Homo sapiens: one gene and its partners. The protein of the gene in region 3 interacts with the protein of the main gene of each other region in a pairwise test. Each region holds a gene or a part of one and is shown on either strand. Other genes may lie near its edges.

Region 1 (4,720 bases), on a different chromosome or scaffold from region 3:
TCTCATTCTCTTTGTCCCTCTAGCTCTCTCTCCCTTCTCATCCCCACCAAGAAGTGGAACTTGAACCTGCCATTCCCTAAGGTCTGTGCAGTGTCTGTGATCCAGAGGACAGGACTGTGAAAGTGTCCCTAATATATCACAATGTATATCTCTTGTTTTCTTTTTCTCTCTACAACTTGATCCTTCCTGTCCCCATTTGTCCCCGAGTTGTAAGGTGCAGATTAAAGGTTTTGTCATAGCAGAAGGAAATCAGAGGGAGATGCCCCGTCTCCAGAGGAAAGAAGTTGAGTTTCCCAAGCAAAACCTAAGCAGAGAGTGCACATTCTTGTCTGAAAGCTTGGAGAAGCAGCAGAATTTCCAGGACACTTGAAAGCACGCTCTGGCAAAGCCCCGGATGAAAGTGTTTTCCAACCATTAATGGCCCACCAGCATGGCTTGGTTTGTGATTCCAGAATTCAGACCACTTCACAATCTCACACAGTTACAGCAAGCAGCTTTGAATTCCTGCTGCTTGGTCTGAGAGTGCATCCCATCCATCGATCGGATGGCTCTGGGGTGGCCATGGTCCCAAGGCAAGGAGGCACCCAGCAGAGGATCCCTGAGGCCTGGCATGTTTGCAGATTGAGCTACAGAGAACACCTTGAGGTGTCGCAAGTGTCCAGAGAGCCGAAGTGTGTAGGGTCCAAAGCAAGGTCCTTCCTGGATGTGCCCGGGAGCTCCGGGGACCTCAAGCGTGGGCCTCAGTCTCCATCTTGGTGGCTGGCTTGTAAATGACTCCCTTGTTATCACCTTTTTTGATACTAGAACAGAAAGAACACATAACTCTTGTTAGAGAGGAGAGCGAGCGAGCCAGAGAGCAGCCTGACTCAGGTATGGAATGAGGCCGTTTTTAAAAGTTGGATTCCTCTCTTTGGGACCTTTCCCCAATTCTGTTGGTCTTGGGAGGGAGTGTCACCAAATAAAGCTTTAACAAAAACAGAACTTGTTCGTTTTCCAACTGTTCTCTTTCACACCTAACAGTAGTAGACCTATATTTTGAAAGAGGTCTCGTTGTCACCCCCCTCTTCAAACCTCTGATTCCATAACAGGGTTCCCAGAAACCTTTTTATTTTTCATACCCCCCCCAAATAAATTAGGTTTTAGGAAAAGCCAAATGTCACAATAAAAACATGGACAAAGGGCATGAAGAGTTAATGTGAGTGAGAGATCAGGTTTTCCTTCATCTTTCTTTTTGAATTCATAGACCAAAAAGCATATGTAAAGATCTTGATAAGAAGACAGCCTGGCTGCTTAACTTCAGGCACAAGCCCCAAGTCAAGAGACTCGTCCAAGGCCATGCAATAGCAGCAAGCAAGGCACACACGCTTCCAAATCTGAGCACAGTGACCCCTGAACCCTTTGAACGACCAGGGTCACATGTGCGTCTCATGCAAAGGAGGCCAGGGCACGGGTGCTTTGGGGACGGCCCTCCTAGGGTAAGTGGTGGTCCAGGTGACTGCGGCTCTTCATGCCACAAAGCTGCCTTCCCAGGCAGACTAATCATCATGGACACATAGCTGTCCATTCCCATTTTGGACCCAAACCAGCTCACCTCTTCCTTCTGAAAAGCCAAATGGACACCACCACCACAATACAGATGCCAAGAATGCCAGCCAGGGCCAGTGAGAGGATGATGCCTGGTGAAGAGGTAGAGGGCACACATTACATTCCTTCCTTCCCCTCCATCTTAGCCCATGGCCCCCGGGTGTGAAATCATGGCCCAGCTGCATAATCATCCACAGAAAGGAATAATTTCCCCATCCCTGTTCTCAGATTCTGGTCTTTGGCTTAGTGGGACTGGCTGGAGTATTTTGAGGTGGCCGTTTGCAAATTCTAGTGGTTTTCCAGCAGATGCTCTCAAACTTACACAAGGGTCATCTGAAGAGCTTGTTTAAAATGTAGGGTTTTTTTTTTTTTTTTAGCCCAACCCCCAGAGATTCAAAGTCAATCTGTTTGGTGCAGGGCCCGGGAATCTGCATTTTGCCAAATACTTACAGCTGATACTGATGCACGTGGTCCAAGAACCACACTTTGATAAGCCCTGGGCTACACAAATAAGAACTTACTCTGTCTTTGCCTGCTGGATTTAAGGCCCATTGGCTGTCTCCATCAGTTTTGCCCCCAAGTTCCATTGCACAGTCCTAAGCAGTCCCAGATGACCAGTAGTCCATTGCCAAGGTCATGCGGCCTGTCAGCTGACCTCCACAATGGGCTCTGGTATGTTTTCAGCAACAGCCTCCCACCATGACCAAAAGAAAGTCTTAGATAGGTTCTTTGAATACACACATGCTGTAGAGTGATTGGATCTTTCATTAGAGGAACATTTGATTGGCAGTTCATCTTTGAATCACAGAGCGACTTGAGGGTAAGACCCATAGCAAGGAGAGGGCCAGGAGCCAGAGCAATAGTACAGAGAAGCAGAGAGGACGGGCTTGGATCACACCAAGAATCACAGTGATCACCCAGCTGCAGCATGCACGGCTGGCTGCCCAGCCACATACCCAGACTCAGTCCTGCCGCAGTACAGACTTGCACTTAAAAGGGGAGAGGAAAAGACGAGGTTACTCTAGAGTCAAACCACACTGGATTTGAGCAGCGTGTTGAGAGACGCTCTACCATTTGTTTGGTCTTAGGCTGACAGACCTCTAGGGATGTCCACCCTTGGCTCAGGGATTGCCTGATGAAGTACAGGAAATTGCCCATCTAGGGAATTCATACTGCAATCCCTCCTTCCGATGCTCCTTTTTTTTTTTTTTTTGAGATGGAATCTCGCTCTGCCGCCCAGGCTGGAATGCAGTGGTGCGATCTTGGCTCACTTCAACCTCCGCCTCCTGGGTTCAAGCAATTCTCTGCCTCAGTCTCCCAAGTAGCTGGGATTACAAGCACCTGCCACCACACCCAGCTAATTTTTGGATTTTTAGTAGAGACAGGGTTTCACCATCTTGGCCAGGCTGGTCTTGAACTCCTGACCTCATTATCCACCTGCCTTGGCCTTCCAAAGTGTTGGGATTATAGGCGTGAGCCCCTGCGCCCGGCCCCGATGCTCCTTTATCACAACAGTTTCCTGGCTAGGGCAAGACTTCACTTGAGTTTTTGTTTGTTTGTTTGTTTGTGTTTTTTTTGAGACAGAGTCTCGCTCTGTCACACATGCTGGAGTGCAGTGGCACAATCTTGGCTCACTGCAACCTCCACCTCCTGGGTTCAAGCAATTCTCATGCCTCAGCCTCCCGAGCAGCTGGGACTGCAGGCGTGCACCACAACGCTTGGCTAATTTTTGTATTTTTAGTAGAGATGGGGTTTTGCCATGTTGACCAGGCTGGTCTCGAACTCCTGATCTCAAGTGATCCACCTGCCTCGGCCTCCCAAACTATGGGGATTACAGGTGTGAGCCACGGCGCCCAGCCAAGATTTCAGTTTTTAATACAACATGGCCAAAGAGGAAAGATGAAGAAAGGTAGGGATCAAAGCCTGCTTGGGCAGGCTCCTGTCCATGTCCCTGGTACCTGCCTCACTTCCTAAGCAAGGAATCCATCACCAGACTTCTCCCCCAGCCCATCAGCTTGTCATCATGGTTTGGTTCTATTTTTGCTTTGTCCCTCCTGGACAAACGCCTTCACCACATCAGCCCCACTTCTCTGCTCCATGGAACCAGGGTATTACGGCTTCAACCAGCAAGTTACTGTTGAGGATAAATAAGGTGAGAGAGAAGTCCTCAGTGTGGCTGAACCCGTGCCCAGCTACCTAAGTCTCACAGTCAGCCTACTAGCCACCTCCTGGGGGGAAAATCACATGAGAATCCATTGTCTTGAGTGAGCAGAGGATCCCAGTCATGAAGTCTCCCCTGAAAACCCTCAGCCTGTTTTTTCCAAGGTTCCCACAGCCATTCCCCATTCTCCTAATCAGGTCCTTTGTCTAAAGAAAGTGTAGATTTACAGGTACCCTTCTGTCTGGTGGTTTTCTCATCTCAATGGAAACTTCTAGCATGTGTGTGTGTCTTGGAGGAAGAAGGGGTATTTGTTCTAACTCACACTGGGAGCCACAGTTGTACAGATGGTGGCCACCCAGCCTGACACAGAAGATCCTGTGCCCATAGAACCCACAGTGGTGGCTGAGGCCCTGGGAGAGCCCTGGTCAAGTGTAAGATGCCAGCAGGGGGCCAAGGACTCTCCCTTGGGGCCCTTAACAGCCTGGGGAACCAGATCTGAGGCTGCAGGGTGAGGTTTTGCTCACTGCCCCTTCTCCTGTCGTATGGCCCAAGTCTAGCTGATTCCCCAGGAGCCATCAGCCGTGTGCTTTTCCGATTGTCTTTTTCTGCAATCTCACATTGAACCTGCAGAGCCTCCCTGGTCCAAGGCTGGGCCCTGGGGGTTCCTGGTCTGGCTTCCCCAGGTGGCACCGGGCTGCTGTGAGGGTTAGCAGAGCAGGCAGGGAGAAGAGCTGTCCCCAAGGACAGGGAAGCCTATTCTCCCTACTCTGCTCACCACCACCAGCTGCTCATGACCTCCCAAGTGGCAGAGTGGCTCCACTGGCCAGACTCCCTGCCCCAGGCCTCTTCGTGTAACCTGAACACAAGGACCAGCCTGTGGCTTGGGGAGGTACTGAGGACATGAGTCTCCACCTGGAGGGAGCTTCCAGTGTTTGTACAGCACAAGCTCTGTTTCCTGCAGGGCCTGTGGCCTCT
Region 2 (5,335 bases), on a different chromosome or scaffold from region 3:
AGTACATTTTTATGTTAGTCAGTTACCAGTGACTTAAAACTTTTTATATGAGGTTATAAAAGACATTTGCATTTATTTTGTCAATTTCTGCCCTACTTTTAAAATTCCTTCTTCTTCCTGCCCTAAGAATTGTAAAGTTTCACACCTCACTAGGCATTCTTGCCTCCTGACCCCTGGGTTCTAACATGATACAGCACTTCTACTCACAGGACGGACCTGGCTAAGAAACTGGGTATCCTTTCAATAGAGTTCATTTGTTCATCTGTCACCAAGGAAACTGACTTCTGCCTGGCCTTGTATGCATACTTGGGTAAGGCAATCCTTAATTTTTTCCACTGCCCTATTCATTGCTCCTTTATAGCTCTGTTGCTAAGAGAAGAGAGGCTGAAACTGAGCAGTCATTTGCTCAAAATAAGAAAAAGAGGAGCCTGTCTTTTGGATAGGCTGGATACCAAACAGGTGGGGAAACCTGGAGCTTCCCTTCTTCAGGTTAAATTTATGTTCAGTTAAGTTTGTGGAATGGCTACATAATGGAAGCAAAGCCATTCCCTAAAAGAGCCACAGGAACACCACAGACACTTAAAAGTTAACTAAACTTACCTTTGGGATGTTATAAGTCAAGTTCTAGAATAATTACCTGTAAGGAGTAGTGTCATTTCGTTTCACAGAACTAACAGATTCCAATTTGCCTGCGCTGCTTTCAGATAATCCTTCTATGTTTTTGCTCAATTGCACTTGGATACTTCCTGCCTCTTTCCCTGGATGGCAGGCTTCTTGATGGATCGGTGACCGTGCCTTCTTTCATGTCTATACTGCATGCTTCAAGGCAGGAACAAATTTTGCAACCATACTTGGTAAAAACAAGCGCTAGAACTTAATTCATTTGGTAGCAAGGTTGTAGGGGGAAAAACGCACTTTAGACTCACAGAACACTGGCCATATCCCTTCTGCTTTCTGGCCATCAGTTTCTTCTGAGAAACTGAAAATACCAGCACCCATTCCTGCCTGCTTCCTGGGAGCAGCAAGCATCCCTGGAAGAATGGCTGAAAAACTCCCTGTCCCAGTGTCAGGGATGCTCAGTCCCTATTTATTTCATTTTGCAACTGCTCGTCTAAGAATTCTTGGGCTTGGCTTCTCACAGGGCTGCTGAAGAGCAAGGGATTGTATTAAAAAGGAGATTCTTGTGCCTTTATTGTCTATTATTACATACACTGGGAAGCAGCAAGTTATTCCTTGGAGGAGGTTTGTAAAAAGAGAAAGCAGGCAGAGGTTTCTTAGCAAAAGTCAAAGGTGCCCTCCTTGAATGAGATGCCAAGCTATTCTAAGACCTCGTCTGTCACAAGTCTCATGATGACATAAATACCTACCAATGGAGACACAGTTTGAGACAGCATGACGGGGCAGACCAGCCACCCACCATTTCATATGTCTATTGGAGAATGTAAGCAACTGTCTGACACCTGGGAGGGAAATAATGGAAGCAGGGTACTTGAAAAAAGGAGGCTAAGACCTCTTTCACTACCAGCACAGCCCAGAGAGTCTCAAGGGGGTACTACAGTAGACCACTACACTGCTCTACAAGGGGCCAGGGTGCCCTTCAGAACCGGGTGAGCCCAGCTCACTGCTAATATATTATCTGGCCTGGAAGGTGGCAGCAAAAACCAGCCACAGAGAACGTGGAGCCCGCCTGGATGTGTGGGTGCCCCACCCAGAGCCTTTGTCTGCAGAACTTGCCATCCAGCCACGTCTGCCCCAGTTGTTAATTGGAGATCATGTCCCTGTAAAGGGGGCTTGCTTGTCACTTGCTGTGGTAACAGCAAGAAACCCCTTCTTTGTATGTGCAAAAAAAAAAAAAAAAAAAACCACAAAACCCAGTTTGGGTACACTATTCTGTTCCTGCACAAATGGGCAGGAGGCCCTCTCCCAGTTCTCCTCCTGTTGCCCTTCGGAGCACAGTTACTCTCTTTTCTAGGGGTCATGGCTCAAAATCCACCCAAGAAATCACCCGTTTGTGATGCACAGGAGAAGACAGAGGTTTGTGCATTGGTTTTCAAGATCTCTGCACCAGATACCTGCGGAAGGGGCATCTTCTTACAGCAGTTAACATTTTATATTACGTTTTTGCTGGAAGAGTCTAAAACCAAACAGAGAAGGTGATGGAGCTCCTTTAGGTGACAGCATGCCACTCAACACGACCCGCAATTTCGTCCCCTGAGCTCAATGTGCTGAGCATGGGAGGTCGGGGTTCTCCCTGGTACCGTCGATACTCAGAGAGCTTCTGTAGCCTCCTTCCTGGAGGCGAGGGCTGGTTCCCGCCTCTCCACCTTGTGCGGGAGACTACTTTGAGAACACCCAACAACTTCGCAGCCTAAGAGGAATGCACAGCTCACCACTTCCGCTAGATGGCGCTACTTCCCCTACTCCGCCCGCGAGACACCCAATTTATAAAATAAATACAACCCAACACCTCCCAAAACCACACCACATAATAGCAGCTCACAGGCTCCCATTAGAAATCTCAATTTGGGAGAACTGATTCTACCTCCGAGCAAGTCTAATACAATTACATTAATAAGACGCAATCCCGAATTGCACCCGAGCGTCCCCCACACCCGCCCTCCCATTGAATACACCTGTCCCCCATGCCCGGGCTTGTACCCTGGGTTGAGCTGCGGCGCGAGCCGGCGCTGAATCGTCGCCGTGCCCTCCCGTCCACTTAGGAAAGCCGGGGCGGCTTGGCAATGGGCATCCTCGGCCCTCAATCCAAGGTCCGCACCTTCCCGTACGCCGGCGCGCCGAGGCAAAGGGCCGCCGGGACGCGAGCCCACGCGGTGCACTGCGCCGACATCCCCGAGGGCAGGAGATGGCCAGGCAGCTCCGCAGCCGGGCGTCGAGCGGGAGGCGGGGGCCCGGGCGGCGCGGGCCAATGGGGGTTCACGGCGGGACAGTCGGGTGGCCGGCTCCGTCCGGGGCTCCGCGAGCCGGGCTGAGGGAAGGAGCTCCCAGCCCGCACACGGTGTAAGGGACGTGTGCCGGGTCTGCCCAACCACGCGCGCTGGCGGCTGCCCGGGGGAGAGTATTTTAGGAAAAAAGAACAAACACCAAACCACAAAAACTTTCCTGCTGCCAACAGCTAAAGCGATAGAGGCGCAGCAAAGCTCCAAATGTGGGCAAGATGGGAGCAAGATGAGACGCGGGGCTAAGGAAGACCAAAGCAGCGCCGTGGCCCCGGCATGTGTCGGCGGCGCCTCGGAGATGTCAGAGCCGGGTCTGCCCGGCTCCCGACCCGCGCTTACCTTGGCGGCTGCATGAGCCCCTGCGGCCCGCGGGGGGTGGCGCTGGCGGGGCTGCGGGAGAAGAGGGGGTGTCGGGGCGCCGCTCGTCTGCCCCGGGGCAAGGTGGGAGGGGCTCCGCTGGCGCTGGTCCCCGCCGCCCCGGCCGGCTCAGCAGCGGCCCGGGGAGCGCCTCCTGCTCCCGGGCTGCATGCCTGCGAGCGCCTGGCGGAGCCGGCCCGGGAGCGAACGGCCAGTGCTTCCCCGGCCCAGCGGCTCGGGCGGCGCAGCCAGCGCTCGGGAGACAACTGCAGAGTGGGGCGGCCGGGACCAGCCCCCTCCCTCGCCCGGCCCCCGCCCGCCGCCGAGCGCGGCGTCGCGAGGTTCGTTTGCGCGCCGAGGGGAGGGGGCGGGCCGGGCGCCCGGGCCGCGGGCGGGGGGCGCGCGCGGGCGGGGCCGGCAGGGAGGGGCGGGGAGGAGCGGGGTGCGGGCTCGCGTTGCCCCGCCCCGCCGCGGCCCCACCCTCCCGCATCAGCACCGGCTGGGTGGGTGCGGAGTGCGCCAGCGGCCAAGTCAAGACTCCTTGAATGCTCAGGTTAGGGGGCGCGGGCGGCAAGTGCGGCGACTCCCCGGGGCGCCTCCAACTTTCCGAATCGCCCGCAGGGTTGCGGTGGAGCGCACGGTGTCCTTCAGTTAGGCGGTGGTCGAGGGGAGTTCCTCTGAGATTTCTGGAGAAGGCGGTTACATCCAAGACAAATGCTGTTGCGCTCTGCGGAGACGCACCTTTGTTCTATAGAGATTTTGTTGTTGTTTAAGAATCTTCCTGAAAAAACTAATACATATGTATTACATGCTAACACACGCATACATTCTTGCGTAGAATTGTACATAACTCAGGAGTGTCTAGAGTGAAAAGACCGTATCGCACTCCCTCCCACGGCCGCGGCTCTCCCACGGCCGCGGCTCCCCCGCGGTAACCTTCGGTCAGGGTGTGCTCTGCCGCGGTTCTTTCCAGTCTCTGCGCTTTTACATGCACACGCACAGATTGCGAGTGGAATCTCCTGGGCTTTTCAAAAGAATGTTTTCAACATTAAGCGCATGCACACAGTGGCTTGAACACGGCCACGTCGGGAGCAGTAAATCCCCAGAGGCTCCGGGAGCCCAGGGAAGGACCCTTGCTGTGAAACAGCAAAGAGCCACCCAATCGCCATGTGTGGATCTGAAACCCCAGCTGGAGCGTGAAGTCGGTCTGGTTACACAGCTCAGGCCCAAATTAGCACTGCACGGTTAGAGAGATTTGCCAGTACATTCTAGACAGGGTTATGACCTTCCCCTTCTTACAGAACAAACTGTCTTGAATTTTGATATGATGAGAACTCTGGATTTGCAAAATGAAAAGGTATCGTCCGCATTAAAACACGATCGTTATTTATGCGTGTGGTCTTCAGAGATGTGGTTTTAACTCAATATTCTCCGTTTTATTTGTCAAGTGTATTTGTATAATCTATAGCTGGGATATAAATAAAATTAAGTGGTTTAGCAGGAAGGGATTGGGGATGGGTTTCTAGAATTAGCTCTGACCTTCGGCAAGTCATCTAGCTCTGCTGGGCCTCAGTTTCCTCATCTATGAATAGTAGGGTGTGTGTGTGTGTGTGTGTGTGTGTGTGTGTGTGTGTGTGTGTGGTCTTCCTGCCCTGACATTCTGTGCCCTGACATTCAGTGAATAACCAATTTCTTCATCTTTCATAGCTCAGCTCCAACATCTTCCCCACCCTCTAGGGAGTCCTCACATCCGTGCCTTTCCTTCCTAACACTGAGCTCACTCGGTAATTAGGCGCTCATTAGAGTGACCTTTCCCTACATGTTGGCCTCTCCCACCGTACCATAAGCATCATGAGGGCAGGAACCAGGACTCCTTGGAGTCATCATTGCATTCCTAGCACTTAATATGGTGCCTGGCACACTACAAGAATCTCTGAATGACTGTCACGCAGATAGTAGATTTCTTACTGTTCTTCCAAATTGCCTGGCATTTTTAAAAGGTCTGTAAGTGGAAACGTGTC
Region 3 (5,100 bases):
AGCAACAGGGAGCTGGTTAATAAAGCCTGATGTTATTCCCGGCTCCACAGATTCCACCCTTCTCGAATTACAGCTCATCCTCAGTCTGAAGCAACCCTCATGTTGACCCACTTGCACACAGCAGGGCAGGGAATCTGGTGACTGAGGAGGCAGGCTGGTGTCTGCCCCAATCCCTGGGGGGTGGGGAGGCTGAGGTCCTGGGAGATATGATTGGCCTGAGAACCTGCTCTGCCTGGCCAGAAGCCTCTCTGTGAGCCTCTGAAACCTGCTCTACCAGCCAAAGGTTAAAATGCAAACTCAGTGCCCAATCGGAATAGGGTAAATAAAACACTATGGACCTCGGGCGGTGGTATGCACCTGTAATCCCAGTTACTTGGGATGCCAAGGCAGGAGCATACCTGGAGCCCACGAGTTTGAGACCAATCTTGGCAACATAGCAAGACCTCATCTGGAAAAAAAAAAAAAGAAAAAACAAAAGCACCTTCCCCTCCAGGGGAGGGGGCGACAGGAGATACCAGCCTATACTTTAATTCAACAGTAAGTCTTTATATTAAAATGAAAAAAAATCCAAAAACCATATGATAGAGAAAAATGTAAACTTGATGTGATGTTTTAAGATAAAAAGGATAAAAGGATATATCAAAGACCTCTCCCCAACAGTGGTAGTTTTTGGATTTTGTTTAAAAAAAAAAAAAAAAAATGAGGCCGGGTGTGATGGTTCACACCTGTAATCCCAGCACTTTGGGAGGCCAAGGTGGGCAGATCACCTGAGGTCAGGAGTTCGAGACCAGCCTGGCCAACATGGTGAAACCCCTGTCTCTACTAAAAATACAAAAATTAGCTAGGTGTGGTGGCAGGCACCTGTAATCCCAGCTACTCAGGAGGCTGAGGCAGGAGAATTGCTTGAACCTGAGAGGCGGAGGTTGCAGTGAGCTGAGATAGCACCACAGAACTCCAGCCTGGGCAGCAGAGTGAGACTCCGTCTCTAAATAAATAAATAAATAAACAAACAAACGAGACAGGGTCTCTCTCTCTCTCTGTTGCCCAAGCTGGAGGGCAGTGGTGCAATCATAGCTCACTGCAGCCTCAACCTCCCGGGCTCAAGTGATCCTCCTACCTCAGCCTCTGGAGTAGCTGGGACTACAGGCGTGCACCACCATGCCCAGCGAGTTATTTATTTTTTTGTAGAGACTGCATCCTGTAATATTGCCCAGGCTGGTCTCAAGCTTCTGGTCTCAAGGGATCCTCCCGCCTCAGCCTCCCAGAGCACTGGGATTGCAGGTGTGAGTCACCATGCCTGGCCCCATAGTGGTAGTTTTGAGTCCATTCTCCTAGCGCCACCCTCCACTGGCACGGAGGTGGCAGTTACATAGGTTCTGATCCTCGGGCCTGGGAACAGCACACAGAGAACCCCACCCACCCCCCTGCTGCCGCCAGACTGGTTTGCCAGCGAAAACTTCCACACAAGGAAAGTTTCTACTCGCAGGGGCCTACTGCATGTCCAGCTTCTGGACAGACAGGTTTAGGAACAACCACAGCAAACACTCAACAAAGCAATTTTCTAGCCAGTCCTAGGAGTCTTGCCCCTCCCGTTGGGTAACAGGAATGGGGATCTGGCTGCAAACTTTCCTGGGTTTGCCCATGGTCAGGTCTTGACACAGTGATTCTTCAGGAAGGCTCTCCAGGAAGGCTCTGTGTTTTCTGTTTAAATGTCTGCATTCTAAGAAGCTCAGAGAAGCTTGTATTGCCTAGGCCTGGCTCTCCTCAGTCACCCCCAACCCTCCTCTGCCAAGAACCATGGGTCGGTGTGGAGTTGAGGGGCCCAGTACACAAGGGTCCCTTGAAACTAGGGACCGTGGTGTCGCTAGGCTGGTAATCCAGTCTCCACAGACTTCACTCTGCTCTTGACCTCTCAGCACGTTCTCTATACTCCCATTTCTCCCACAACAAAGCTGAATTCGGACGTGGCTAGGACAGTAGCAAGGCACAGTTTAAGTCTGGATCAACTTCAGACTAAAAATGCATTTCAGAGCATTTTTCCAGGGACTGAGGGAGACTGGCACATCAGAATCTCCAAAAAGGCAGAGAGGGGTGGTGTTTTTGATCCATACCTTGCTAGTCTTCCCTCCCCGTCCCCCGCAAGAGTCTCTCGTGATTCCACCATGCAATGCAAGGAAGCTGCTTTGCAGGCAGAGGAAAAAGGTTGATAATCAATGCTTTCAACGAGCCTCAGTTTCAGCCCAAATTGGGATTTAGCTCACCACTGAGCACCAATTTTGACAAAGCATAAGGATTTCTCTGTCTGTAGGCCCTGAGATACCCTGGCCTGACTTAGCCCGATACTGTTGGAACCTCTCCTGCTCCTGTTCTCCGTGACTGTACCGAACCCAAAACAGAGGCTGCACACTGGCAGAGGCTGGCAGATGTCTTTTGTGTGGCCCACACAATTTTTTTTTAAATGGGAATTAGCTGTCAGTATTTAAAAAGTAGGAATTTTTTTTTTTTTTTTTTTTTGAGACAGAGTCTCGCTCTGTCACCCAGGCTGGAGTGCAGTGGCGCGATCTTGGCTCACTGCAAGCTCCGCCTCCCGGGTTCACGCCATTCTCCTGCCTCAGCCTCCTGAGTAGCTGGGACTACAGGCGCCCGCCACCACGCCTGGCTAATTTTTTGTATTTTTAGTAGAGACGGGGTTTCACCGTGTTAGCCAGGATGGTCTCGATCTCCTGACCTCGTGATCCGCCCACCTCCACCTCCCAAAGTGCTGGGATTACAGGCGCCCGCCACCACGCCCTGCTAATTTTTGTATTTTTAGTAGAGACGGGGTTTCACCAAGTTGGCCAGGCTGGTCTCGAACTCCTGACCTCAGGTGATCCACCTGCCTCACCTCCCAAAGTGCTGGGATTACAGGCGTGAGCCACTGTGCCCGGCCGAGAATTCTAATACTCTTCAAAGTTGCTTATCATAATACTGGCATGCCTTTTTTTTTTCCAGAGCATAGGTTCTGCTGAGAAAAACTGAGGTCAGGCTGTGTCTTGTAAACCTAGGAATCATTATTCCACCATCTCAAAGAACTGGGGAAACCTTCCCAAACGGACATGGTATGAACTCAAGTCCTACAAACCTACCTTCAGCCTCAACAGCCAAAGGAGGAGAGACGAATATTCTTTGAGTGCTTACAATGCTACGAACGAATGAACATTTACACACATCATCTCAATCCCCACGAAAGTTCCTTGAGGTGGGAATCATCAGTCTGTTTTTAGAGGAGCAAACTGAGGGTGAGAGAAGTTAAGAAACTTGTCCAAGACGACTTAAAAGGCAGGACGCCAGGATTCAAACCCCAGTCTGTCACTCAGACTCTGCTCAGAGGCTGCCTCTCCGACTGCCCTCCCACATGTTTTTTCTTCCTAGCTCTTATCACATGCCAAGTTATTGGATGACATATTTACTTGCGCATTTGTTTCCTGTCTGTCTCCCCAACAGAATGTAAGCTCCTGCGGCAGAGACTCTGTCCATCTTGTCACTGCCATTTCCTTGCACGGTGAACGGTGTCTGGCACCTGGTGAGCCCTTGGTGGGGATCTGCTGCTGGATGAGGGGAAGGGCAGCTGTATCTGCTGTGCCACACTACCGTCCAAAGCATCCCTTCCCTTATCTGTTCTTTCATTATTTTCCCTCCACAAACCCCAACACCAATCTCAGAGGCCAAGGAATACAACACAGAGAAGGTGAATGGTTCCCTGTCCCTTCAGATGGGGGGTTGAGAGGAAGCTGAAATTCCTAGAAATCCAAGAAGAGTCTGTGCGTAGGGATAGGCTTGCTCCTACAAAGCAAAAGTCTTCAGGCTGAGGAGGCGGAAATGGTTTATAAGCGACTCTCTCCTTTCTGGGGCTGGAAGGCTTGGCCACACTGAGAAGGAGGTGATGAGAGAGTCCCTTCTGAGGCTGGAAGCCTTAGCCACCTCTCCTAGCCCACGCTCAGGCTCCTTTGCATCCAGTCAAGGGCTTGGGGTTAGGATCATGGAGCAACACGGGTGGGAAACAAAGGGAAAGTGGCACAGAGCATCCGAAAAGCACAAACCCCTCCCTGAAGTCAAAATCAAAATCAGTCAGAGCACTGGTTCCTGAACTCAAATGACCTAGGGCAGCGGCTCTCAAAGTGGGGTCCCCAGACCTACTAGAATCAGAAACTCCAGGGTTGGGACCCAGAAATCTGTGTTCTACCAAGCCCTTCAGGTGACTCTGATACATGCTAAAATGTGAGAATTACTATCCTGGGGAACAAAAAATACGCAGATTCTTGACCCCTGAAGAACCTGATTTAGTAGGTCTGCAAATGGGGCCAAAGAGGATTTCAAAAGCTTCCAGGTTGATTTGGACTTGCAGCCAGATTTGAGAGCTACTGCACCTGAGGACTCATCTTTTCCTGGCCCCAGGCCAGTGTCCTCGGCTCTAGACCGACCTCCCATCATCCTTCAGTCACTCACTCACCACATAAAGCAATGATGTGGCTGCTGTCTTCATGCACAAACTTCCTGGTGACAGCCTCCTCCATGATTTGCTTCACCTGCGGACACATGGACAGCATCACTGCTTTTATTATTTTCCCTTATCAAAGACCTCTGGGCAAATAAATAGTTTGGTTCCGCCCTTCTGGTCTGAAGGGCACTTTCAGACACTTGCAGAGATGACAGGGATGAAAGGTGTGGGGAAGCAAAGTTTCTTCAGCACAGTCTGATTCCAGTCTTTTGGAGGGGAAACCAGGGAAAGAGATGCCAAAAACCCATCAAACAATCAGTGCATGTTCCAGCCCAGGTGGAAGTGCCCTGCCTTGGAGAACAGGAATAGGATGCTGTTTGCTCATCTGTTCTCAGCTCACGAAGGGCTTCTGGGCAGATATACTGTCCTTTAGAGACAAACCATCTCGGTACAGCCTGCAGATAAACAACCTGCCCCTCCTCCTTTTCTCCCTATTCTCCAAGGTTAGGGGTAGGTCTCATACCTCAGGGACACCCTCTACATGCTCAAAAGCCCAGCCTTCTTTCCATCTAGGGTCTAGAACTCTGATGTTTGGGGTTCCCACCTGGATGTAAAAGTTCCCA
Region 4 (4,720 bases), on a different chromosome or scaffold from region 3:
TTTCTTCCCTTAAAGGCAAATAGAGTGAGAACGTGACCTATCAATTAAAAAGAAATTTTAACTTGTCTCCCGTTTTAGTGCTTTCTCCCCACTTTTGCCTTTTCTCATTCCTTTCCACTTACCTGTTTGTTCAATTCTTCTTTCCATAGTTGTAAGCTAAATCCTATGTTATTTTAATTGAAAACCTTTACAAATAAGAGGGAAATGTGCTCAAATAAAATAGGATGCATGTTGCTATATGTATTTCTATTAGCATTCAAATTTGCCCCTAAACAACACTTGCAACTGGTATCATAACATGGAGAGCAAACTTTCTGCTCCACGAGAAATTCCGTAAGAATGATAATCATCTTTATCATAACATGGAGAGCAAACTTTCTGCTCCACGAGAAATTCCGTAAGAATGATAATCATCTTTATCAGAACATACTGCAGTGACTGACTATGACCTTCAGAGGGCAGTCTATAGATAATAAAATGGCAATGCACCTAAGTGGCCAGAGAGAGGCAGAGCTTACATATATACCTGTCATGGGACTGAAAATTCTGTACATTCTCAGCAAAGATAATTAGAACCCATTATTCAGCTATCAAAATCCAACTTACATATCATGCTGAAATTAATGTTTCCACTTTAAAGGAAAAGGGTGGTTATGAGCTCCAAAAATTGAAAAAATTAACTTTTTAAAAATGACAACGAGAAACAGTAAAATTGTCCGTTCAAAATGGGAAAACTGAGCTCAAAGAAAAACAAAATACTTCTTGTTGGTTTTCCTAGTATGCCATATTTTTAGAAGAAAAACAAGTAAAGTAGTACAGTCGCCTGCCAGGCTGCCTCCTCCCACTTCTTCCCCAGCTCCTCAGGGACTGTCACTCTCAGGCCTCCTCTGCAGCCTTGGCTTCTTGCTTACTTCAAGCATCTCACTGAATTGCCATCGGATGGGCTGAAATGAGCATTTTATCTTCACTTTCAGCCTTCTGGAAACCATAGTCCAGTGCTGGTTATCAAGCCATTTGAGTACCTAAGAGCAGTAATTTTTAAGCTCCTTGGATTTTAATCTCTTTGGTATGTCATGGAGCCCACAGAGACAGAGTAATCTGAGGGTCAACAGTCCTCTCTTGTAAAATCTAGGAAGTCTAGGGTTAGCCAAAATAAGCCAATGCCACACTGCTTAAACCACCACTGACTAGAGCACACTCAAGAAACTGTTGCTGGGTTTTTTAAATTTTGTTTTCTAATTCTCCGAGACCACTTTATTCACACTTGTCTTTGGCAAGGCTAGCTTTTTACCTGGTAGGACAGTTACTTGTGCAATTTTTATTGCATTCGTTCATTTAACAAACTATTATAGAATGCCTTCCATGTGCCAGGCATTGTGCTATGGAGATAACAGTAAACCAAGGCAGTCCCTAACTCCAAGGAGGTCACTGTCTTATCTCTCCTATCAGACTGTGAATTCCTTGAGGTCAGCCTGTGCTTTTAAAACAAGTGTCTGTCATAGTGGCTAGCAGATAGAAAGTATTTAATATATATTTATTTGTCAAATGAAAGAATAAATGAATGAAAAAATAAATACATTAAACCTTAGTTTCCTCCCGTCCTCCAAGTAACTATGGAGAAGCCTTCTGAGAAGTTCCCACGGTTTTTTTAGAAGTAAGAAATAGATGAGCCTTGGTTTCACAAAAAGGGGTATAGCTAAAGTGAAAGCCAGGATCAACAAAAGATGGTTTAAGTTTTACTACCGAGAATTCTGCAAATTTAAGGAGTCACCTAGTTTACATACTCTGTAACCAATTCAAGTCAAACAACCTTCTCCCTTTTAGAATGAGACAAAAAGAAAGAAAAGGGAGTGAAAATCTTCTATTTTAAGAAGCAAGACTCTTCACCCCATCCTGCAGACAATCCAGCACATCTCCTCTGCAACAGTGCTCATGTACATGGGCCACATCCAGGACTAGTTTCTGGATTTCAGTAAAATTAACTTTGGTAAACTTCTGACTCAGTTTAGTAACAGTTCTAGGGAAAAAAAAGAAATTAGAAATTAATTTCTTGGTTATCTGTCAAAATAAAATAGAATTTATAGAGTATTACTACAGTAGAAGTTTCAAAGAGAAATGACTGAAATTCCCTTGTTGTTTAAAAAGAAAAGGAAACATGTTTTAAGGCTTGATTCCAGCCATATCTTTCAAGGTGGTAGCTCTGTAAACTGTGAGCTGGCCCCACAAATGGTTTAGAAATAATTTATCTTTTCCTAAAACATGTCTTAAGAATTAAGGTAAATTATTTTTGCCATTCAACCCTTATGCTGAGCATTTGTATTGAGTGGACATAAAACTTTAAAAGGATAAACAATTAAGAAATGGAAAATTCCATGAAAATGAGAACCATTTTTTACTGGGGTAAAAAATACTTCTGAGAATCCAGGAAAGGAGGCGTATGTGCAAATCAATGAAATGGGACAAGAAAGTGGAGCAGATTAAACATTTCAGGCATACCAGTGTGCCAAGAGAGTAATGTGGCCAAAAAAGAAGTAAGAAATAAAAATTCTGGTTTCCTCTGCATATTTCATTAAATTTTAAGAGTTGTCTTTGTAAAACCATTGCTCCTAGAGAAAATAGTGTTACTCCTGCTTCTGATAAAGATGGATCTTCTCTATAAATTTAGACCACTTAGCTTTCACTTATGGATAGCAAATGATAAGGGTATTATAATACTATCTCAATTTCTATTTTATTACTAAGATAAATTTTTTTAAAGTAGGTCATAAATTAATCTTTCAATTTCTAATTGAGTTGGAGGGTAGTTAAGGCATAAATCTGACTTCTTACAAGAAGAAATTTCAGTCTTTAGAACTAATTCTATTACTAAAAACTTCATTCTAGATTTCCATTGTCTACAATATGCTTTAACGTGTTATTTAACCAAACAGCAATCAAATAAACTCTGAATATATATACTTACTACTATTCGATTAGCAGCTCAGATATTTTCATATACTAGAAATGTTTTATCATAAAAGAGTTGATGAGTACTTTAAAGAAGTTATATAATTTAAAATGTTCTTTTCTCCTGACACTAGATTCTAATATTATTGCCTCAAAGGAATATTTTTATGGGAAGCAATAAATGCTATAAAGAGCCTTATAGAAGATTAAGAAACACAATTAATATAAAGAATTTCTTGTTAAGGCAAAAGTTTTAAATGACACTCAGTGAAGGCTGACTTATTTTGTAGAAGAGCTAGAAAAATATGGTCTAGTGATGAGGTATAATTTGATGGCAGGCCAGAACTTAAGTGTCTTAAAGAACAGGTAAATAACATAAACTTTAAAAGTCTTTTCTATGTATTATCTCAGCTAGGCTTTAGTAAGTGTTAAACTGACTTATCCGTTAGCTTCCTTCTGATCCTAAGAGTTCATGGTTCTAATCCCATTAGCCCTCATCAAAGGGGTCACAAAGGGGTCTTCATTCTCTAAAACAGCAACAATTAAAAAAACGAACCCAAATTGCAAAATGGTAGTTCTGTAGCTCTCACCCTCTTCCCTAGATAGAACTTGAACTTACATGGCTTGGAAAGTTCGGGTCCCAAAATTTTTCATTACTGCACATGCATGTTGATTTAACAAGCTGCTTTCTCTTAATTCTTTTGTAACTGTTGCTGCCTAGATGTAGAGGAAACAAAATGTCATGAAAGCATATACTAACATTTTCTTTACAAGCTCTAATATTTAGAAAAACAACAAGTATAGGTAAAATGAAATTCCATAAAATATGTTTTTTACTAAAAATTATAAATGTCATACATTATCGCAGAATATTATTGACTCATTTATTCTTTTGGGTTAGTTTATATGCATCTGTGCCAGACAAATTTACTCAAAGTACCTTGAAACAAAAACATAACTTTTATACTGGGGATCATAAATGAACAACTGTACCTTTAAACAGCTTAAAGACAAATTGAAGCCTGCTAATTTCTTAAGTGTCTTCTCAGTTACAAAAAATACGATTGTATCACGGCTTGACACTGAGAGTAGTCAGTTCTCAGGAAATTTTTGTTATAGGACTGCTGGTAGCAAGTAGTTAATGGTGGATATTATTCTACCTCTCTAAACCTAAAAAAAATTTTCTTCTCTAAACCTCTTTCCTAGTTTGTTAAAGGACAAAAATACTTACACCTCAAATTTGTTCTAAGGTTTAAAAAAACAGTAAGTATAAAGCATTTATCATAGTTCTTCATTTTTTCTCTCTCCTCTGCTCCTCCTTTTCTCCGTTTTCTTTCACTTACTCCTTCCCATTTATAGCACCCTCTCTTTCTCTCTTTCTGTCTGTCTGTCTTTCCTTCTTTATCCCATCAAACTCACTTCCTTAATAATAAAATTATTGTTGACTTAATGAATAGATAATAAAAACCAGCAAATCCAGTTTTGTTCACTCGAAGAATATCAGACTGCTGAACTATTTCTCTATTCCAAAAACGATACTCTCCACAATTAAGCACGTTTTCATTTTTAACTTTGTTTTGTTTTAATGAGTCATAGACTACAGTACTGGTTCAGATATCCACGCAAATATGATACCTTTGTTTGGAAGCATTCAACTGCATTTTCAGCTTTGCAGCAAGATGGAATTATTTTGTCATAGCGAGCAGCCCAAAGAAGAATTGTAGGTGCATACAGGAAGGGATGCCTTCTTGCTATCTCATAAATGAATCTGTGA

What was found. Proteins that work in one complex are often made in the same cells at the same time.
Region 1: the proteins of SGSM2 (region 3) and CA12 interact in a two-hybrid assay, tested with the Homo sapiens proteins (one large-scale study listed by BioGRID and IntAct).
Region 2: the proteins of SGSM2 (region 3) and RGMA interact in a two-hybrid assay, tested with the Homo sapiens proteins (one large-scale study listed by BioGRID and IntAct).
Region 4: the proteins of SGSM2 (region 3) and AFP interact in a two-hybrid assay, tested with the Homo sapiens proteins (one large-scale study listed by BioGRID and IntAct).

The regions. Positions count from the first base shown.
Region 1 is NC_000015.10:63,325,558-63,330,277, forward strand, and holds part of CA12 (carbonic anhydrase 12 isoform 1 precursor), read right to left. Parts: intron 2,574-4,720; coding exon 2,541-2,573; intron 1,677-2,540; coding exon 1,592-1,676; intron 801-1,591; coding exon 728-800; 3' UTR 1-727. UniProt on the Homo sapiens protein: Reversible hydration of carbon dioxide.
Region 2 is NC_000015.10:93,085,623-93,090,957, forward strand, and holds the start of RGMA (repulsive guidance molecule A isoform 3 precursor), read right to left. Parts: upstream 3,590-5,335; 5' UTR 3,311-3,589; coding exon 3,297-3,310; intron 2,902-3,296; exon of another isoform or gene 2,659-2,901; intron 1-2,658.
Region 3 is NC_000017.11:2,343,010-2,348,109, reverse strand, and holds part of SGSM2 (small G protein signaling modulator 2), read right to left. Parts: intron 4,566-5,100; coding exon 4,490-4,565; intron 3,588-4,489; coding exon of another isoform or gene 3,450-3,587; intron 1-3,449.
Region 4 is NC_000004.12:73,442,290-73,447,009, reverse strand, and holds part of AFP (alpha-fetoprotein isoform 1 precursor), read right to left. Parts: intron 4,715-4,720; coding exon 4,582-4,714; intron 3,664-4,581; coding exon 3,566-3,663; intron 2,018-3,565; coding exon 1,888-2,017; intron 1-1,887. UniProt on the Homo sapiens protein: Binds copper, nickel, and fatty acids as well as, and bilirubin less well than, serum albumin. Only a small percentage (less than 2%) of the human AFP shows estrogen-binding properties.